3 separate regions of the Homo sapiens genome follow, and all the other regions are reported to be linked to region 2. Evidence: microRNA targets listed by miRTarBase, many of them from high-throughput screens and not tested one by one. Region 2 holds a microRNA gene; each other region holds the end of a gene's coding sequence.
Evidence for each region. The annotated mature microRNA hsa-miR-6076 reads AGCAUGACAGAGGAGAGGUGG and lies in region 2 at 4,581-4,601, opposite strand. An mRNA with a match to its seed (bases 2 to 7 or 8) in the 3' UTR can be bound and repressed. Matches are read on the target gene's strand: a 7mer-m8 pairs with bases 2 to 8, a 7mer-A1 pairs with bases 2 to 7 and ends in A, and an 8mer does both.

Region 1: the mRNA of PRR12 is a reported target of hsa-miR-6076. The part of its 3' UTR that is shown has no 7-base or 8-base seed match.
Region 3: miRTarBase lists MARCHF5 as a target of hsa-miR-6076. Seed matches in the 3' UTR shown: 7mer-A1 at 1,486-1,492.

What each region holds. Positions count from the first base shown.
Region 1 is chr19:49,624,440-49,631,639 of GRCh38, reverse strand. It overlaps PRR12 (proline rich 12), which reads right to left. Exons shown (of 14, transcript NM_020719.3): 12 at 6,650-6,796; 13 at 6,440-6,535; 14 at 5,201-6,179. The coding sequence ends at 6,033. Among named protein-coding and RNA genes, the nearest start is that of RRAS, 12 kb to the left of the region's middle.
Region 2 is chr14:49,963,800-49,970,999 of GRCh38, reverse strand. It overlaps MIR6076 (microRNA 6076), which reads right to left and starts at 4,601; the gene lies at 4,489-4,601. RefSeq lists silencers at 95-389, 5,735-5,804.
Region 3 is chr10:92,350,407-92,357,606 of GRCh38, forward strand. MARCHF5 (membrane associated ring-CH-type finger 5) reads left to right here. Exons shown (of 6, transcript NM_017824.5): 6 at 685-3,558. The coding sequence ends at 801. Among named protein-coding and RNA genes, the nearest start is that of MARCHF5, 63 kb to the left of the region's middle. RefSeq lists an enhancer at 1-398.

The DNA of each region.
Region 1 (7,200 bases), not on the chromosome of region 2:
GCCTGTAATCCCAGCTACTTGGGAGGGTGAGGCATGAGAATCGCTTGAACTCGGGAGGCAGAGGTTGCAGTGAGCTGAGATCGTGCCGTTGCACTCCAGCCTGGGCAACAAGAGCGACACTCTGTCTCAAAAAAAAAAAAAAAAAAAAAAAAACTGATTAGCTAAATATCCCTTTCCGGGTTCTATTATCACAGAATCTTTGGCCTGTTCTCAACCTTCTGCCCTGGGAAAAAGTACAGCTCGGATGTACTGTCACATGTTGGCTCTCTTCCCTGCTAGGAACTCTGCACACCAGGGGTCCACCCCTGCTGGATGGGGAGTGGTGGGGCAAGAGGGTGGGCAATGTTTTGATCAGTTTCCAAACAAGCTCTGACACTTCCACCTAAGCCCCAGCTGCGGGTACTGAGCCCCCAACAGGAAGGAGTCCTGTGCCAACATCTCTCTTCCCAGATCTCACCATCCACATGCCCCCTGCAGAGGATCAGAGTCTTTCCTGCACTGCCCGATGGGGCCAACTTCTTGGCTGGGGCACCCTGCTTCTAGTAGGACCAAGATGCACTTTGAGAAGGTGATTAAAGTTACCGCTTGCCCCCCAAATGCTCAAGACAACTGGCAGACCATTTTTGGAAGGTTTACAGCCACCAGTGTCCCAAAGATCAACACACAACAGCAAAAAGGCTGGCATCTCCCTAGGTACTGTTAGTGCCAGAAATTATGTATTCGGTTCCTCCCCTCCCCTGAGCTCTGGCAGGCCCTAGCAACGATTCTAAAGCTTTCCAGGTTTTGATGTCCCCATCTTTTTTTTTTTTTTTCAAGACGGAGTCTCACTCTGCCGCTCAGGCTGGAGTGCAGTGGCGTGATCTTGGCTCACTGCAACTTCCATCTCCCAGACTCAAGCAATTCTTCTGCCTCAGCCTCCCAAGTAGCTGGGATGACAGGCACCGGCAAGCATGCCCGACTAAATTTTTTTTTTTTTTTTTTTTTGAGACAGTGTTTCACTCTTGTTGCCCAGGCTGCAGTGCAATGGCGCGATCTCGGCTCACCGCAACCTCCGCCTCCCGGGTTCAAGCGATTCTCCTGCCTCAGCCTCCTGAGTAGCTGGGATTACAGGCATGCGCACCACCCCGGCTGATTTTGTATTTTCAGTAGAGACGGGGTTTCTCCATGTTGGTCAGGCTGGTCTTGAACTTCCGACCTCAGATGATCGTCCCACCTTGGCCTCCCAATTTGCTGGGATTACAGGCATAAGCCACTGTGCCCGGCCATACCCGACAAATTTTTGTATTTTTAGTAGAGGCAGGGTTTCACCATGCTGGCCAGGCTGGTCTCGAAATCCTGACCTCAGGTGATCCATCCACGTTGGCCTCCCAAAGTGCTGGGATTACAGGTGTGAGCCACCACGCCCGGCCAATGTCCCCATCTTTATCTTTCTCTGTGTCTCTTTGTTTTCTGTCATGTTGTGGACCTCTGTTAAGCTTCTCTAGATCTCCTGCTACAGGTCACAGGAGCTGCAGGCCAGGTGCTCCAAACCGGTTGTCTTCCTTCATTTTGACAAAAGCCCATTTAATGGATGGCAAAGGTGAAGATGGGGTCTGTTACCCAATCTGCCTGGTTAGTGCTGCAGCTGGGATTCTAATCTGGGCAGCTGGATGCCAAAGGCCAACCACAAGGTGATTCTGTCCCTAAAGGGATGATTCCTGACCTCACTGTCCACGCTCACAACACTCCACTCCCGGCCGAGCGCGGTGGCTCATACCTCTAATCAATCCCAGCACTTTGGGAGGCCAGGGCGGGTGGAGTACCTGAGATCAGGAGTTAGAGACCATCCTGGCCAACATGGTGAAATCCCGTCACTACTAAAAACACAAAAATTAATTGGACCTGGTGGCACGTGCCTGTAGTCCCAGTTACTCAGGAAGCTTGAGGCAGAAGAATGGCTTGAACCCAGGAGGCGGAGGTTGCAGTGAGCCAAGATCATGCCACTGCACCCAAGCTTGGGTAACAAAGCGAGACTCTGTCTCAAAAAGAAAAAAGAAAAAGAATACTCCACCCGTTTTCCATCCTGGAACTCTGACCTGGGACAATGCCAATCCTTTGGCCTCAATTTTAGCTTTTTTTTTTTTCTGGAGACATGAGGATCTCGCCATGTTGCCCAGGCTGGACTCAAGCAATCCTCCTGCCTTGGCCTCCCAGAGTGCTGGGATTATAGGCATGAGCCACTGTCACCTGGCATTTGGCCTCAGTTTGACAGTCTAGTCCAGGACCTTGAATGTATGGCTTTCCATCAAAGGCTGCACCCCCACATGCTATAGGCCACAGTTCAAGCACAATAATGGTTTGTACTCAGCCCTCTTAACTCAATGATTCTAGAAAGTTCATGATCCTTTTTAAAATTTTTTGAGATGGAGTCTCACTCTGTTGCCCAGGCTGGAGTGCAGTGGCGCGATCTGGGCTCACTGCAACCTCAGCCTCCCGGGTTCAAGCGAGTCTCCTGCCTCAGCCTCCTGAGTAGCAGGCACAAGCCACTATGCCTGGCTAATTTCTGTAATTTTAAGAGAGATAGGGTTGGCTGGGCACAGTGGCTCATGCCTGTAATCCCAGCACTTTGGGAGGCCAAGAAGGGCAGATCATGAGGTCAGGAGTTCGAGACCAGCCTGATCAACATGGTGAAACCCTGTCTCTACTAAAAATACAAAAATTAGCCGGGAGTGGTGGCATGCACCTGTTATCCCAGCTACTCACAAGGCAGAGGCAGGACAATCGCTTGAACTTGGGAGGCGGAGGTTGCAGTGAGTCAAGATAGTGCCACTGCACTCCAGCCTGGGAAACAGAGGGAGACTCCGTCTCAAAAAAAAAAAAAAGAAGGTTTTTACCATGCTGGCCAGGCCGGTCTCAAACTCCTGACCTCAGGTGATCCGCTCATCTCCACCTCCCAAAGTGCTGGGATTACAACCGTGAGCCACCACGCCTGGCTTCATGGTCTATTGTTGACTCACCCATTATGGTTCTCAAATGCTACTATCCATCCTCTAGTCTGAAACCAGGATCTAAAATCTGTAACATGTGGCCAGGCACGATGGCTCTTGCCTGTAATCCCAGCACTTTGGGAGGCCGAGGCAGGCGGATCACGAGGTCAGGAGATTGAGACCATCCTGGCTAACACAGTGAAACCCCATCTCTACTAAAAATACAAAAAAAAAAAAATTAGTCGGGCATGGTGGTGGGCGCCTGTAGTCCCAGCTACTTGGGAGGCTGAGGCAGGAGAATGGCAGGAACCCTGGACGCGGAGCTTGCAGTGAGCCGAGATTGCGCCACTGCACTCCAGCCTGGGCAACAGATCGAGATTCCGTCAAAAAAAAAAAAAAAAAAAAAAAAATCTGTAACATGTGATGGTCTAGAGTCCAGATTTGTCCAACCCACCTTATTTTGTTGTTGTTCTGTTTTGTTTTAGGCTTTTAGCAGCCTGAAGCCATGGTTTTTAGTTTCTGTCTCTAGTAATAAACAAAAAAGAGGGATGAGGAAGGGGCTTTACTGGTACAACAGAAACTAAGAACCCATGACTGTATTCTCTCCTTGGACACCCCTGGAACAATACTCAAGGTTCTAGAACGATGAGGGTTCTCCCTGAATCTCACCTAAAAGGGCATCTGGAATGCTGATGTTCCACCCTCAAATCTCACACTGGGTCCCTACCCACGGACTAAGCCAGGGTTCTGGAACACCAGTGGTCCATCCATCCAGGCTCTAGAATGACAACAGCCTGTTCACTGCTTCATAGACTGGGTTCTAAAATATTGCCAGTTGACCTCCACATTTTTTATTTTTTGAGATGGAGTCTCGCTCTGTCAGCCAGGCTGGAGTGGTGCAATGGCACGATCTCAACTCACTGCAACCTCCGCCCCCTGGATTCAAGCGATTCTCCTGCCTCAGCCTCAGCCTCCCATGTAGCTGGGATTATAGACGCACGCCACCACGCCTGGCTGATTTTTGTATTTTTAGTAGAGACGGGGTTTCACCATGTTGGTCAGGCCGGTCTCGAACTCCTGACCTCAAGTGATCCCCCCGCCCCGGCCTCCCACAGTGCTGGGATTATAGCCGTGAGCCACCGTGCCCAGCCAACCTGCACATTTTTAACATTCTTGTTCTAGAACACGGTTCTTCAAACTTGAATGTGCTTGAGAATCCTCTCGGCATTTTACTAAAAAGTGGGTTCTGATCAAGTAGACCAGAGCAACAGCCTGAGATTCTACATCTTTTCCTTTAAGGGTGGGAGGAGGAGAAACAGCCCTATTCAACCTGCCCTCTCCTCGTCTGCTGCCTGTGCCGATTCTACATTTATACAAGTGCTTGGGGAACTCCAAGAGTGCTGTACCATGGACCACTCACTTGGATTCAAGAATACAGGACTTGAGGCCGGGCGCAGTGGCTCACACCTGTAATCTCTTTGGAAGGCTGAGGCTGGCGGATCACTTGAGGTCAGGAGTTCGAGACCAGCCTGGCCGACATGGTGAAACCTGGTTTCTACTAAAAATACAAAAATTTGCTGGATGTAGTGGTAGGCCCCTGTAATCCCAGCTACTTGGGAGGCTGAGGCAGGAGAATCGCTTGAACCGGGGAGGCTGAGGTTGCATGAGCCAAGATCGAACCACTGCACTCCAGGCTGGGTGACAGAGCGAGACTCTGTCTCAAAAAAAAAAACCAAAACAAAACACTACAGGATTTGAACTGGGTGTAGTGGCATGCACCCGTAATGCCAACTACTTGAGACTGGGGCAGGAGGATCTTTTAAGCCCAGAAGTTCAAGGCCAGCCTGGGTAACATAAAGAACACAGGGCCAGGCACAGTGGCACTTGCCTGTAATCCCGTCACTTTGGGAGGCTGAGGCAGGAGGATCGCTTGAGCCAGGGAGTTGGAGGCTGCAGTGAGCTATGATCATGCCACTGCACTCCAGCCTAGGTGACAGAGCGAGACCCTGTCTTTAGCTAAAAAACAAAAGAAACCCCCCAGTGATAAATATTTGTTGTCTGAAGTCATTAAATTTCAGGGTGGGATACTCTGCTGTGCGGGGACACAGAACATATGCCAGCCTCAGGCCCCCCACTGCCCAGGGCTCTGGGAAAGTCCCGTTCCAGAACCTCTGCCCCTGCTACCACTGCCACCCACTCCAGCGCCGCAGGACAGAGGCACTCCAGCCTGCCGGTAAAGTGTTTGCCGTTGGGTTTTCGTTTGGCTGGTTGTGTGTACACAGTGTATACAAGTTGAGTTGTACAGAAGCCCAAGAAAGAGCAAGAGACAAAGGGTAGTGGGAGCAGGGGGTGGGGCGGGGGCGAGAACGGGGAGGAGGGGAAAGGAGACCGATAAAAAATAGAACCACATCCAGACAACAATGGGGGATGGGCAGTGGGTGGGGGCCAGACACAGACAAATCGCCGTAGAAAAGGAGTGGGAGGGGCAGAGAGAGGGGACCCTTCTCCCCCCTCCACCTCCCCAAGCCCCTGCCCCAGGTATGTACAATAAATAAGATTAAAAATAATTAACAAGATGCGTTTTCCCCTCCCACCCGACGCCAAATGCCCTGCGGAGGGAATGGCCTTTAGCAAAGATCTTGGCCTGCAGGGGGGACTTGGGGGGAAGGGGTCCCCCAGCTCTCTGAAGCCACCCCACCCCCCCCAGCCATACATAGACTTTTCCTATACATTATGTACAAGGTGGAGGGGGCGGGGGCTGTGGCTGTGGAGGGGGGGTCGGGGCAAGGGGAGAGGGAAACCGTTACTAAATAGACATTTATACATATATATAAATAATTTCTCTGTACACCGAACAGTGGGAGGAATGGGGAGGGAGTGGAGGGGGCTTGGGAGAGGGGGGGAGTCGGACTTTGAACCCTGCCCTGGAGGGGGCAGCACAGACACACCCTGACCCATGACCCCCTTTCCCCGGCGATGGAGCCCAGGTGTTAGCTCCTGAGGACACGGTTCTGTCCCAATTCTCGGTTCATGGAGGAGGCGCCCCCCTCACAAGCTGGGGCGGGGTCACCCGCAGCGGCTGTGGGCCTGTGCTTGGGCCAGCAGGTCACTGAAGGAGTCAAAGAGCTGTTCCAGCCACGGCTGGTTCCGCATGCACTGCTGGACCACCTCCTCCTGGCCCAGGTCCTCGGCGCCGCCCTCGATGGCCAGGGTCTGCAGGGGTCAAACATGGCACTGGGGAGGGTGGCACACCGGCCTCTGGGGAGGGAAGGGGCTGGGGCATGGGGCCTGGGGTGTCAGATGTCAGTGTCCCAGGGAGACCAGGGCTGGGGGCTGCATTCTTAAGTCCAAGACAGAAGGACCTGAACTCTTGGGTCTGAGGCAGGATGGGGCTGGGCTTGGACCCTCAGATCCCAAGAGGAAGTCAGAAAGGTTGGAATCCCAGGGCGATGGGTGCTGTGGGTGGGGCTCACCTGGTCCCGGCAGCGCAGGAAGGTGTGGTATTTATAGTGGTGGAGCGAATGGTAGAGTGTATAGTATCCCGACTTTTCCAGCTCAACCTTGAACTCCTGGGTAGGAGTGGAGATGCCTCAGCCCCTCCAGCCCGGCACTTGGCAGCCCCTCTCCTCCCTTCCCACATACCGCCAGCACTCCCCACTCCCAGCCCCAGCCCCAGTGCCCACCTGGGCTCTGACCACGCTCCTCTTGAGCTTGCTGAGCGTCTTGCGGTTGTAGGGTTCCCCAGCAGGCCGCAGCCGCACAGCCCCCTCTTCCGGAGAGCCCTCCCCACTCTGCTCCACTTGCAGCTGTGGGAACGTGTGCAGAGCATCCTGCGGGAAGCCAATGGGTCAGCTGGATGCTGCCCTGGATCCATAAACCCCAAACCCAACAGCCAGGTCTCAGATCTGTGCCTCAGTTTCCCCCAGGCTGCAGATCAGGAGAGACAACTAGAGTCTCCTCAAAGGACAGAGGAGGCTGGGCCTGACCAGTGATGCTTCCACTGTGCCTTCTGGCCTGGCTCAGATTCTCAATGTCACCCAAAATTCTACCCCAGAATTCCCAGCCCCATCCTAACCATCTACCCCAGAATTCCCAGCCCCATCCTAACCATCTATCCCAGAATTCCCAGCCCCATCCTAACCATCTATCCCAGAATTCTCAGCCCCATCCTAACCACCTACCCCAGAATTCCCAGCCCCATCCTAACCACCTACCCCAAAATTTTCAGCACCAT
Region 2 (7,200 bases):
CTGTGTCCTGCACATGCATGTGTGTGTACACACATAGACACACACTCACTCAACGTCATGTGTAGCAAACAGTAGACAATTCCACACTTTCAGGACAGGCACCAGCCAAATCCTTAAATTGTGAAACTAAGAATGCAAGCAGCAAAACTTGTGATTTCAGGCCACTTTTGATTATATTTCTGGAGCTCAGCCAAGAGAGCCATTTCCAAGAAAAGCAGCTCAGACAATTGCACAGTCAGCTCTCCAGCCTTAAACCAAGCTCTTTGTCAAGCTAAGCGGGATGTTTCTCCTCCTGACCTTATCTCAGGCTCCAGCCCTATAACATGTCTGTTAACTAAGTAGCAAATTATCGGCCTTCACCAAGAATACACAAGGAAGAAGTAGAACAAATCCACCTCACATTGCGAGCAACTGGAGAGTCAGCACAACAAACGATTGTGTGCCGAGTACTGCTAGTGAACAGGCACAACAAGGTGCTGATCGTTTCAGACAAAGGGAGAGAAAGGAGTGAACTCCCAAATGTGAGCCCTACACCAACCACCCAGCCAGCCAACAAAATTGTTTCCCTCAAGTGGGCAGCCTTGCCTGAGGAAGCCATGTCTATAATCTAAAGCCGACCTACAGGATTTGTAATAAAGCTCAAACTGGACCTCCCTCTGTCCTGGGGACGGACTCAGAACATAGAATCCATCTGGGGGCCATTTGCTCAGATTGGGAGTAGCTGGAGGCTTGGGAGGGAAGAAAGCCACTGTAGTTTTCATGACCCGTGAACCTAGATCCAGTGTGCAAGCCAGGCTACCCTGAAGGTCCCAGAATGAAGCCTTTCTTCCTCGTTAGACACGTAAGTCCAAGGGAACTGCACTTTAAATTCCATAAATACATAGTAAGTGAATAAATAAGTCACTGACCATTTATATGCATAGATAGCATTTTGGGTGGCAACCGCTGACTTAGAACATTTGCCCTATTTAGAATCTAACTCAGGCTTAACTTAGAGGAGACTATTCTGAGGTAAAAAAATTTTTTTGTTGATAGTTTTTTAGTTCTTTGATGTTAGAACTTATTTTGAGATGTTAAAAATAAATATTTGAGGCCGGGTGTGGTGGCTCACATCTGTAATCCCAGCACTTTGGGAGGCCGAGGCGGGTGGATTACCTGAGGTCAGGAGTTCCAGACCAGCCTGGCCAACATGGGGAAACCCTGTCTCTACTAAAAATATGAAAATTAGCCAGGCGCGGTCGTGCACACCTGTAATCCCAGATATCTGGGAGGCTAAGGCAGGAGAATCGCTTGAACCCGGGAGGTGGAGGTTGCAGTGAGCCGTGATCGCGCCACTGCACTCTAGCCTGGGTGACAGAGCCAGAGTCCATCTCAAAAATAAAAATAAAATAAAATAAATATTTTTAAAACTTAGGCAGCAAATGGTATCATTTTACTCATCCCCTAATTTAGATAATAAATTAGCCTCTATTTCTCACCCTCACAAATAAATTCCATACTGACTAAAAAGCCTAAAGTAAAAAATCAAAATGAGTATTAGAAGGAAATGGAAATGTGGCCCCATGCAGTGGCTCACACCTGTAATCCCAGCACTTTGGGAGGCTGAGGCGGGAGGATCGCTTGCGCACAGGAGTTCGAGACCATCTGGGCATCATAGCAAGACCCTGTCCCTACAAAAAATTAAAAAATTAGCCAGGTATGGCGGTGCATGCCTGTAGTCCCACCTACTAAAGAGGCTGAGAGGGGAGGATCGCTTGGGCTTAGGAGGTTGAGGCTACAGTTAGCCATGATCATATCCTGTACTCCAGCCTGGAAACAGAGTGAGATCCTGTCTAAAAAAAAAAAAAAAAAAAAAGGAGACAAGACATAAGAGAGTATTTTACAATCTTGAGATAGAGAAGGACTTTCTAAGCAAGATATAAAACCAGAAACCATAAAGAAAAAGAATTACAGATTTGACTGCATAAAAACTTTAAACTTTGTAAAATAAAAGGGCCTATATACAGACTAAGAGAGAATATTTACAACAGAACTAACATCCAGAGTAAATAGGACAGATACAAGTCAATAATAAAACACAAACCACCCGATAATAAGTGTGCAAAGAATATTCATAAGAAATTCACAAATGCAATTGGTGGAGTTGAACAGAACAATGCTGATGACCCCAGAATCTTGTTCCTAGATATATACCCAACAGAGATGATGCACAGCTATACTAAAGAGCATGCACGATAATGCTCTTAGCAACATTATTCATTAATAACTGAAAGTTGGCAACAGATGTAACCCAGATGTCCATCAATCAATAAATTGTGATATATTCACATAATGCAATACAATAAGCAATGTAAATGAGCATACTACAGCTACACACGAGTACGTGAAAGACTCATAAACGTAATGCGAATGAAGGAAGCTAGACGCAGAAGAGTGCATGTTTGTATGAGTCTGTTCATATGACAGTAGGAAACAGGAACGACTAATCTACAGCACTTAGATGTTGGGGTAGGAATTACTTTGGAGGAGGTCGATCTTTTTCAGGGGAGAGTCTTCTTTTGGGGAGAAGGTCTTATAATATTTTATTTATTGACTTGGGACATGATTACAAGGAAGAGTTCACTTTGTCTTAATGCATTGATCAGTACACCTTTAATGTATACACCTTTCCTTTTTCTTTTCTTTTTTTTTTTTTTTTTTTGAGATGGAGTCTCGCTCTGTCGCCGAGACTGGAGTGCAGTGGCGAGATCTCAGCTCACTGCAACCTCCGCCTCCCGGGTTCCAGCGTTTCTCCTGCCTCTGCTTCCCGAGCAGTCGGGATTACAGGCACCTGCCACCATGCCCAGCTAATTTTTGTATTTTCAGTAGAGACAGGGTTTCGCCCTGTTGGCCAGACTGTTCTCAAACTCCTGACCTCAGGCAATCCACCCGCCTTGGCCTCCCAAAGTGCTGGGACTACAGGCGTGAGCCACTGCACCCGGCCTATACACCTTTTCTGTATTTTTATTTTTAAAAGTTCCCAAAATTGAAATGGTCAGTAGGCCACTGCAACCAGCCTATACACCTTTTCTCTATTTTTATTTTTAAAAGTTCCAAAAATTGAAATGGTCAGTAGGCCACTGCAACCAGCCTATACACCTTTTCTGTATTTTTATTTCTAAAAGTTCCAAAAATTGAAATGGTCAATAGGCATATGATAAAATGAACAATCTAACTGGTAAATCCAGGAAATGCAATTTAAAATGACACTGTTTTTTCTGCACATGACGCTGGCAGTTTTAACAAAATGATTATGTCCAACGCTGATGAGTATAATGGTGGCTATAAAAATCAGAACAGAATTTTGGGGGAGAAACTCAATATTATTTACAAAAATTTTAAATGTGCATGCCCTTTGATCCAGAAATTCCACTTCTAGAAATAATATCCTTCAGAAACACTCATACATACACACACCCATTTGTGTATAAGAACATTTGTTGCAGCATTGTTTGTAATGGTGAAAAATGGAAAACCACCTATGTGATCCTTTGCTAAAATAGTGGGTAAAGAAACTATGATACATCTAGAAGGAATGCAACAGTTAAAATGGGGGATGCCTATATGCACTAACACAGAAAGAGCTACAGGGAATGTTGTTAAGTAAAAGAAAAAAGTAAGTCAGAGAACAGAACATGTCATGTGATCGTTTATGCATAAATGACCTGAATGGGCCGGGTGTGGTGGCTTACACCTGTAATCCCAGCACTTTGGGAGGCCGAGGTGAGCAGATAACGAGATCAAGTCCATCCTGGCCAACATGGTGAAACCGCGTCTCTACTAAAAACACAAAAATTAGCTCAGCGTGGTGGCGCGCACCTGTAGTCCCAGCTACTCGGGAAGCTGAAAGCTGAAGCAGGAGAATTGCTTGAATCCAGAAGGCAGAGGTTGCAGTGAGCTGAGATTGTGCCACTGCACTCCAGCCTGGGTGACAGAGGAAGACTCCGTTTAAAAAAAAAAAAAAAAAAAGACCTGAATGTCCTTAAAACATTAAAACCACACACACAAAAAATTAAAACAACGGAAAATATCTGATGTGGTTCATTTATCTAAATACTTCACAAATCCTAAGACAAATAAATTTAACTTCTCTCTTGAGAAGTTATATGCACTGTATAAGAATTCTCTGGAACTGTCTCTCTACACCAAACCTGAAAGGACTGCACCACAATGGGAAGGAACTATTTCTTGTTCCACAGCCTCCTAGAAGAGTCTCAGTGTCTCCTCAGAAATGCCAGCTCCCACACGGGCCTGAGCAATAGCTCATGGAGTCTCTCCAGACCTTTGTGCTTCTGAGGCACTTTTCAATAATTAACTAATCTGCCTAAAGGGTGGGGCGGGCTATGGCTCCCACAGACTCAGCACTCCCTTCAGCCAGCTGCCCTCTGGAATGCAAAGGCATCCATCCCCTAGGAATGGCTGTTGGTCAATCCCTGCCCCACCACAGCCCCCAAACTCAGGAGGGTGAAAGGGCCAGGGCAGGAAAGCAACTTCCCCTCTCAGATGTTCTCCTGGAGAAATTATATTACTCTCGCCTACCTCCACCTCTCCTCTGTCATGCTCCTCCAGCATCTGAAAAAGAACGTTCCAACAGGCAGCAGGACAAATTACATGTCAATGCTGTCAGTTTCAATGCTGCCCTTTGTTGCTCCAGGTCCTATGAACCACAGAAAAATGTATAGGTCCTTTCCATTTTTTTTTTCTTTCTGGCACAAATAAAATAAACAGCAGAAGCAGTTTCTATTTCAGTATTTTCAAAGGGATGGTGTCTGGAGGAATGGTTCCCAATCTTTGGAATTTAACAAACCATTAAAATTTTGAAAACCTTTTGAGAGACTAACATAGGACTGCTCACTTCTATTTTGCCAAGCACAGACACTTAAAAAACAACCTGAATTATTGTCACCATCATTTTATGGTGGGAGATGATTGGACACTTTAACCCCAAAACAATGTAATCATGACAATCTCAGATTTTAAAACAGGACTTCAAATTTAATACACTCAGATGCATGAGAAATACACATGTATTTCACGTAGACTGGTGAACACTTCCTTACAGACGCACCAGCCCCTTGGAAAGAACTGGCAGAGACTAAATCATAAGTTTCCAAACCTGACTATGCCTGAGAAAGATAGGAAGGCATTAAAAATAATAATAATAATAATACAGATTCCAGATTCCCACCCCATCCATATTTACTGTATCACCTTCTGAGGATTTCTTGAGACGGAGTTTTGCTCTGTCACTCGGGCTGGAGCGCAATGGCACTATCTCGGCTCACTGCAACCTCTGCCACCCAGGTTCAGGTGATTCTTCTGCCTCAGCCTCCAGAGTAGCTGGGATTACAGGCACCCACCATCATGCCAGGCTAATTTTTGTATCTCTGTAGAGAAGGGGTTTCACCATGTTGGCCAGGCTGGTCTTGAACTCCTGACCTCAGGTGATCCACCTGCCTCGGCCTCCCAAAGTGCCGGGATTACAGGCGTGAGCCACCTCGCCCGGCCGCCTCTGAGGCTTTCTAAGGGTGGGGCCCTGGAATGTGTATTTAAAACTTTTTTTTACTATGGTGAAATATACATAATATAAAATTTACCACTTTAACCATTTTAAGTGTACAATTCAGTGGCAATAAGGACATTTACAATGCTGTATGTAACTTTTCATCATCCCAAACAGAAACTCTGTACCTGTTGAGCAATCACTCCGCATTTCCCCTTCCCCCAGCTCCTGCCAAACCTCTATTCTACTTTCTGTCTCTGTGAATTTGCCTATTCTAGGTCACTCAAAGAAGTAGAATCACACAATATTTTTCCTTTTGTGTCTGGGTTATTTCACTTAGCATAATGTCTTTGGTGCTCATCCGTGTCATAGCAGGTATCAGAATCCCACTCCTTTTTGTGGCTGAATCCTTCTCCATTGCATGCATTTGCCACATTTTGTTTATCTGTTCATCTGCTGGTGGACGGTTCTGTTGTTTCTACCTTTTGGCTATTATGAACGGTGCTGCTATGAAGGTTGTTGTACACGCATCTGTTTGAGTTCCTATTTTCTATTACTTTGAGTATATACCTAGGAGTGGAATATGCTGGATCATATGGAAATTCTGTATTACCACCAAGGAACAATCAGGCTGTTTTCCACAGTGGCCGCACCATTTTACACTCCCTCCAGCAATATGCGAGTGTCCCAAGTTAGCCACATCCTCACCGACATTTGTTGTTTTCTGTTTTTGTTTTTATTACCAGCCATCCTCATAGATGTGAAGTGGTATCTCATTGTGATTTTGATTTGTATTTCCCTAATGATTAATGATTTTAAACATCTTTTCCTGTGCCTATTGGCCATCTGTGTATCTTCTTTGGAGAACTGTCTATTGAATTACTTTGCCTATTTTAACATTAGGTTGTTTGGTTTGTTGTTGTTGAGTTGTAGGGGCTTTTAACATATTCTGGATAGTAGTCCCTTATCAGATGTGTGATTTGCAGGTATTTTCTCCCATTCTGTAGGCCATCTTTTCATTCCCTTCACAGTGACCTTTGATACACTGAAGTTTTTTATTTTGATGAAGCCAAATTTGTCTATTTTTTTCTTTGGCTACCTGTGCTTTTAGTGTCACATCCAAGAAATCTTGCCAAATCAAAGATTATGAAGATTTAGTTTAGGTCCTTGATCTATCTTGAGTTAATTTTTGCACATGGTATAAGGTAAGGGTCCAGCTTCATTCTTTTGTAAGTGGATATCCAGTTTTCCCAGCACTATTGAAGACAAGGGTTTGTTTCCCGGCTCTCTATTTTATTCCATTGATCTATACGTCTGTTCTTATGTTACTACCACACTACGTGGTCTACTGTAGCTTTGTAGCAAATTTTGTGTGAGAAATCTCACCACGCTACCCGCTCCAGAAGTGCCTGCAGGAAGGAATGAAAGGACACAGGGGCGAGCGAGTCTCTGAGTATGAGAAGATCGTTGACAGCCCTGGAGCAGCAAGGGTGCTCTGGTGTGCGGCTTCCACCCTTCCCCTGATCGCAGCTGCCTCTGTTGGGCTAGCTCCTCCAACCATAGTGCTTGGTCTGTAACCACCAGAGTTCTGGGCAAGTCCTTAGTCTGAAAAAGGATGAAGAGAGGAGGTGTTGTGTGCAAAATGTGATTCACAAGAG
Region 3 (7,200 bases), not on the chromosome of region 2:
GGTCAGGGGGCACCTTGCCTCTAGTGGACAAGGGCCCTGAGCTTTACACAGCCCTCTGTATTTATTAGGCAAAAGAGATAGTGAGAAGCAGGGGTGATTGTCGGGTAATTGTCAGTCCATTTGGCAGTTTGGTTCACAGCAGGCTTGCGAGACTGCATCATTTGAACAGTAGGCGCTAGATTTCCCAGTAGATAAGTTCAAGGAGCCCTGCACCAGGGAGTGATGGCCCCCAGCAAACCCTTTGGTGGCAGGCTCAGTGTGAGTTTACTCACATCCTGCATTCATGATAAACAGTTTGCTGTTTGGTCATATAGCCTCCAGTGGAATGCTGAGTTGGTCACGATCCCTTTGGCCTTTCTTGCTCCCAACAGTGGCAGTCTGCACATAGTGCCCTAGCATTCTTCTTTGTATATCAGAGTATATGTAGAACTACATGGAAGAAAGACTAGTCAGAAAGGATAATGGAGAAGGCATCTGTGTCCCCTGTTACCTGTAGTAACAGCGTATAGTCTGTCTCTCTCCCTATCTCATCTCCTAGTAGAAAAAGAAAACTGTTTCATTTGCAGTCATCTGAATTAGTTTAGCATCAAAGCCTACGTCTTTTGTGATCTAAATAAAATTATTTTTATTACTCTGTTTCTCTAAATCTGCATTATAAAAAGCTAATTTTCCTTTTTATTTTAGGGTGGAATTGCGTTTGTTGCCATAAAAGGAGCATTTAAAGTTTACTTCAAACAGCAGCAATATTTACGACAGGCACACCGCAAAATTCTGAATTATCCAGAACAAGAAGAAGCATAAAACTGACTTCTGGTTGTTCTGCAGTTCTCTCATCCTTATGAATCTGTTGTGTTGTTTTGATTCCATCATTAATGCACTTGTGGAGACTTGTGATAAGCTGCTGCTCCTATATTTTTTAAGAAATATAATAAAGCACTTAGGGCAGGGGAAATCATCTCGGTAATCATGGAACCTAAGGATGTGATTTGTTTTCATTGTTTGTATGTACTACTTTTATGGCAGTCATATGAACCATTATCTTAGCATGGTAAACCTGGGTTTTGTTCATATTTTCTCCAGACAGAAATGCAAAGATCAAACTGTGCAAATATTAAAAAAATGCACATGCTGTTTTATTCAAATGCCTCTTTTGTACATGTTCATGTTTAGTGTTTTCTCAGAATCAGCAACTCAAGGTACTATGAGGATTTTTCTCACTGACATAATTTGATTACATACTAAATAAGAGGATATGTTAATATGAGGAAATGTAAATTAAATTAGTTATAAATAAATAACCAAAAATGTATGTAAACATTCAAATGATTATCTGAACAAATGAGATTTTGTGGTGTTTTCTTTAACCCATGTGATGTCCTCCAAAATGTGTAGGGTAAAAATTCACAGGGCTTCCAGATCACTTTTTCAATATTAAATTTTATTTACATAATGTTGACATCTCATACTTCATGAAGTAATTTTGACTCATGCAGTCGTGTGTGTGTGTGTGTGTGTGTGTGTGTGTGTGTGTGTATTTGTGTGTTTCAGTGTTTCATCAGGTCCTTCCATCTCTGGGAGTTTTTTCAACCCATATTTCTAGAAATTACAGCTGCCAGTTTATAGTAGTTTGAGCAGAGGATGATTTGCAAAAATAAAAATAAAGTTATTTTACTCTCCTCTTGCATTGATTCAGTTATTGAGATATTCGTTGATCACCTCCTATTTCCCAGGCACTGTGCAGAGTGCTGTAGGACATAGTGGTGAACAAGACAGACTTGGTCCAAGCTCTTACAGAGTTGACAGTCTAGTTTCAGCACATAGAAAACCAGCAGTGAATAAACCAAGGTGAGGCCTTGAGCTCTTTGTTTTTATATTAATGAGGAGAAAAGTATGAAAACAAGAAGTCTTAAGTAAATATTGAGGTCATTGTTTTTGGCTTAAGTTTATTATAGAAAATCAACACTAATGTTTTTAGATTTTAATTGTCCTATTGATGAGGCTAGCACCTTAATCACTGTTTAGTTTTGTATTCATTTTTAAAAGCAATTATTGAAGCCATTTTCAATAGATTGGCCATTTTAATGTTCAGCAACCTGAATGGTTATTTTTGTTAATTAAAATTAAATTTTTAAGAGATATTTTCAAAACCCTATTTATTTTCTTGTTCACAGTAATGCATGTCAATAATAAATGTTTCCCCTTACTGATAAGCGGCCACTTTAGGAGTGTAGCAAATATAGATTGAGCTATGTTAGTTTGCAATAATATATGTTAACTTTAGTAATTAAAGACTGGTTTCTATAGTATGAATGTCTTAATTTTGAGTTATATGATGTTTATTTGAATGACTGTTGAACATTCAAATTTGTATTATTTGGAGATGAAGATTTGACTAACAGTGAGCCTTATTAAGAACACTACTACAGTTCTGAAGGGGAAATATAACATCTATGGTTATATATTTTAAAAACTTAGATTATAGGCTGTAATTATAAAATATATTGGCTTTTGTTTTCAATGTGAAAGATACATTAAATGGACACATATCTTGCAAAATTTTGTTGTATAGAACAGTTTTTAGGCAGCCTTTACTAAAGTTATGCAAACACACAGTTCCCCATTTACTACATTAATGCCCTTGACAGGGAGTAGCTGCTTGGTTTTATAGGTATTAGGGCTCATGAAGGCCGGGGAACAACTCTAATCCTTTTGGGGCAGGAGGGAGGGTTTTTTTAGGGTTGCGGGGAGGGAACTGCAAGTGCCTGAGGACCAGAGTGGCCTCTAGCCCCGAATTGAACACTTTTAAACCTAAAGAGCCTTATTATTATTAGCTCGAGAAATACCACATGCCAGTCTTCCCAGGAAGGTGACCTGCCTGACCATGAAGCAACAAAAGAGCATAGGCAGACTTAAAGTTGGATAGACCTGGGTTCAAATCATAGTTCAGCTTTCAATAACTGTATGTATGATTTTGGCTAAAGGATTTGACTTTCTCTCAACTGCAGTTTTCTTAATCTTTGAAATGCAAATAATGTTTATCTCAGAAGACTATTTCTAGGATTAACTGAGAGATTAAAGGAACAGCAGCACTTAGGCTCAAAATCGCCCCTACAAAGCAGTAGTTGTTTCTTAATTGCTAAGTAATCTGTTTGCACTCTAGGAAAAGTAAATGGAGAGGTAAAAGAAAGGCATTGGGGACAAATGAAAGAGATGATGTAGATTTTTCGGATGGGTGGGTATATTTTATTTTCCAGTTTATTTTCATATTTCTTTACTGTGTTATTTCTGGAAACTTTAATGTTTTAAACCTCTTTTATAAAATTCAATGACGACTACTAGAATTCTTTTCAAAAGTTAACTTATCTCCAAAGTGGCTGAAAATATTGTTTACCATTACATGATTATGAAATGACTGTGAAGAATATAAAATTAAACTTAGTGACTTAATTAGTCACTGCCTTGCTAACTTTGCTGTAATTTTTTTAAACGTCTTGTTTTTAATATAGCAAACTATCTCAATACTGGCTGGATTAGGTTAAATAAAGAATTTTTATGTTCTCTAGGTGTACTTTGTTAAATCTCAAAACATTCTGTACATACATAATTTTTTTTAATCACAGTTATCGAGATACTAGTTTTTGTAAGTAAAAGTAATCTGAATTTAAAAAAAAAACTGTATGGAAGAATTTGTCCTAATTTTGTAAACAGGCTAGCCTATATTCTAAGTATGTTCTAATGACTAAACTACATCCCCACTCACCCACCCTCAAAGCCTCTTGCACTGAGTATAATTAAGCAACTAGACAAGATCTGTGGGTGGTCTCATGCCATGATGTCTTAAAGTGTATTCGAGTGAGTTGGGAACACAAACTGCTTCTGAGATATTAAGAACTTAAATTTCTGAAGTAGAAGATTAGAATCCTCTAGAATGAGTTAAAGGTCTTTTCCTTGCATCCATTTGGGGATTATATTGGTTTTAAGTCATTTCATTACCCCATCTGAGAGACAGATGCTAAGAGGAGAAAGGGCATAGAATTGAACAGTCCTGGATGCATATGCTAGCTGACACTTGATTAGCTGTAGGGCAAGTTACTTTACCTCTCAGATCTTCAATTTCCTCATCAGTAAAATGAAGATTATAAAGTCCATCTCCTGGGTTATTGTGAGGATTGAGGTAACATTCTAGGACAGTTTGATACATAAGGAAACTAAATCTCAATTTAAGTGCATAGTAGAGGTTTTGCCTACAGCCTTTTTTGGTCCACTGGAGTCAAGGTTGCTGTTTATGTGCTACTTGCCACCCAACGTGCCCATTAGAAATGGTAAGAGTGATGGAGTGTCTTGTTTAACAATTGCCTTCCTGAAACAAGGATCCTGAGCAAGGAGAATAAAGGAGGGGTTTGCATCTGAATACCCGCAGAAGCCTTACGGACAAGCAACAGAGGCTAGACCATCATTCTGGTCAATCCCGAGTGAATTTAAGCATTTTTCTGAAAATAGCTAGGCCAGGGTTACTGTATGCCAACAACATACACAACTCAAGTAGATATTTGTTGACCTATGTATGTGGCTAGATATTGTGCTCAGTCCTGGGGTTTTAAATAGTGAATAAGCCTGCTTTGAGATAGAGTCCTAAACTGCATAACAGATCTTACTATGATATTACTGTCATAAGAACATAAGATCCATAAGGTTAAAATGCTTTTTGTTTAGTTTTCTTTACACTTCCCACACTAGAACAGCACCCGCACATGGTAGGAGCATGATTGAACATTTTATGAATTTGGGAAAACACTCCTTTTTAAGATCAAAACACTTATCTTGATCCTAGTTCTTTTGGTCTCCTGAGTTTCTAAAAATTTAAATATAGTTAACCTCTTTCTGCCACTTTTTTTTTTTTTTTTTTTTTTGGCAAGAAAGCAACTTTGAAAAGGCATAAAACTGCCTGTAATCCCAGCACTTCAGCAGGCCGAGGCAGGAGGATGACTGGAGCCCAGGAGTTCAAGACCAACCTGGGCAACATTATGAGACCCTGTCCCTACGAAAAAAAAAAAAAAAAAAGCTGAGTGTGGTGGCATATACACCTGAGGTCCTAACTACTTAAGAGAGAGGCAGGAGAATAGCTTGAGCTCAGGAGGTAGAAGCTGCAGTGAACCATGATCACATCACTCCACTCGAGCCTCAGCGACAAAACGAGTTCATGTCTCGAAAAGATGGCCAGGCGTGGTGGCTCACACCTGTAATCCCAGCACTTTGGGAGGCTGAGGTGGGTGGATCACAAGGTCAGGAGTTTGAGACCAGCCTGACCAACATGGTGAAACCCCATCTGTACTAAAAATACAAAAATTAGCCGGGCATGGTGGTGAGTTCCTGTAATCCGAGTTACTTGAGAGGCTGAGGCAGGAGAATTGCTTGAATCCGGGAGGCGGAGGTTGCAGTGAGCGAAGATAGCGCCACTGTACTCCAGCCCGGGAACAGAGTGAGACCCTGACTCAAAAAAAAAAAAAAAACAAAAGATATAAAACCACTTTAAGTCAGGTAATTATGAAGGGTACAACACTAATCAGCAAGACTACCTAAGAAGGAACAGCATTGACCTGACCCCTTCAGAATGTTAGTTTCTCACCTTTAACACCTGGAATCAGCAAAAACAGCAAACGAGTACCTGCGCACTAGCTTGTCTTCCGGGAGCCACTAGGACACCTTTAATAAAAGTCACCTAAGAGAAAATGAGGCACTGTCACACTTTGCTGCCCTTATGGTTCATTCATGTAGAGAAATCAATTTATTCATTGGGATCTACTTGGTAGCTCACAGACCAGTGTGAATGTCAGGAATTTGGGCATGCTGTGGTTGAAGGGCTTAATGTTTAAGCCAATCGCTGTCTTCCAGTGAAGAGTGCACACCATAATAGAAATCTTTCAGCAATGTCATCTTCACTTCGGTGAGCTCCTTCACACACAGACAAGAATTTATTGAACAATAGTAGGGCTTCCGTTCCAACTTTTGAAATATGTTGCCACCTCAAAAAGCGCATGGACTCTGAATACCTGTCCCTCAGGGTAATATGCCTGCTAAAGTCAAATAGGAAAATGAAAGAGGATTTTTTCCTCAAACAAATTCAAACCCACCATTATCTTATTCAAAAGGAAAGACCACAACTGTGTGGACATTTTACTATTTCCATCATTAGAACCCTGACCACTTGGCCATACACTCATTTGTATACTTTCAGATTTCCAGAGCCCACACTACAGATGCTCAACAGGACCTCTGCAACATGACATAAGTAATGAAGTACATTTTTTAAAGTAAGCTTTTTGTAAGTTGAAATATATATACATGCACAATTATATGTGAAGCTCATAGCAGTACTATTCACAATAGCCAAAAAGTGGGAACAATACAAATGTGCATCAACTGATAAGTGGATAAACAAAATATGGCTTATCTATACAATGGAATATTATTCAAGCATAAAAAGGAATGAAGTACTGATACGTGCTGCAACGTAAATGAGCCTTGAAAACATCGTAAGTGAAAGGAACCAGACACAAAAGACTACAGATATGATTCCATGTATATGAAAAATCCAGAATAAACAAATCCAGGAGACAAAGTAAATTAATAGTTTCCAGGAGCTGGAGGGAGGGAAAAATGGGGAATGACTGCTAATGGGTACAAGGTTTCTTCTGGGGACGTTGAAAATGGTCTGAAATTAGTAGTATTGATTGTGCAACTCTGTGAATACACTAAAAACCTCTGGATTGTACACTTCAATTAAAAGGTGAACTTTATGGTAAATGAATTATTTCTCAGTAAAGATTGTTTTTTAAATTTTTAATGTTTGTGGGTACCTAAGTATATATATATTTATGGGTTGCATGAGATATTTTGATACGGCTGTGCAATGCATCAAAATCATATCAGGGTAAATGGTGTATCCATCACATCAAGCATTTATCATCTATTTGTGTTACAAACCAATCCAATTATACTCTTTTCATTATTTTTTAATGTACAGTTATTGACTATAATCACCCTGTTGTGCTACCAAATACTAGGTCTTATTTATTCTATTTTTTGTGCCCATTAACCATCCCCACTTCTCCCCACACCCCCTGCCACTACCCTTCCCAGCCTCTGGTAACCATCTTTCTACTCTGCATCTCCATGAGTTCAATTGTGTTTTAATTTTTA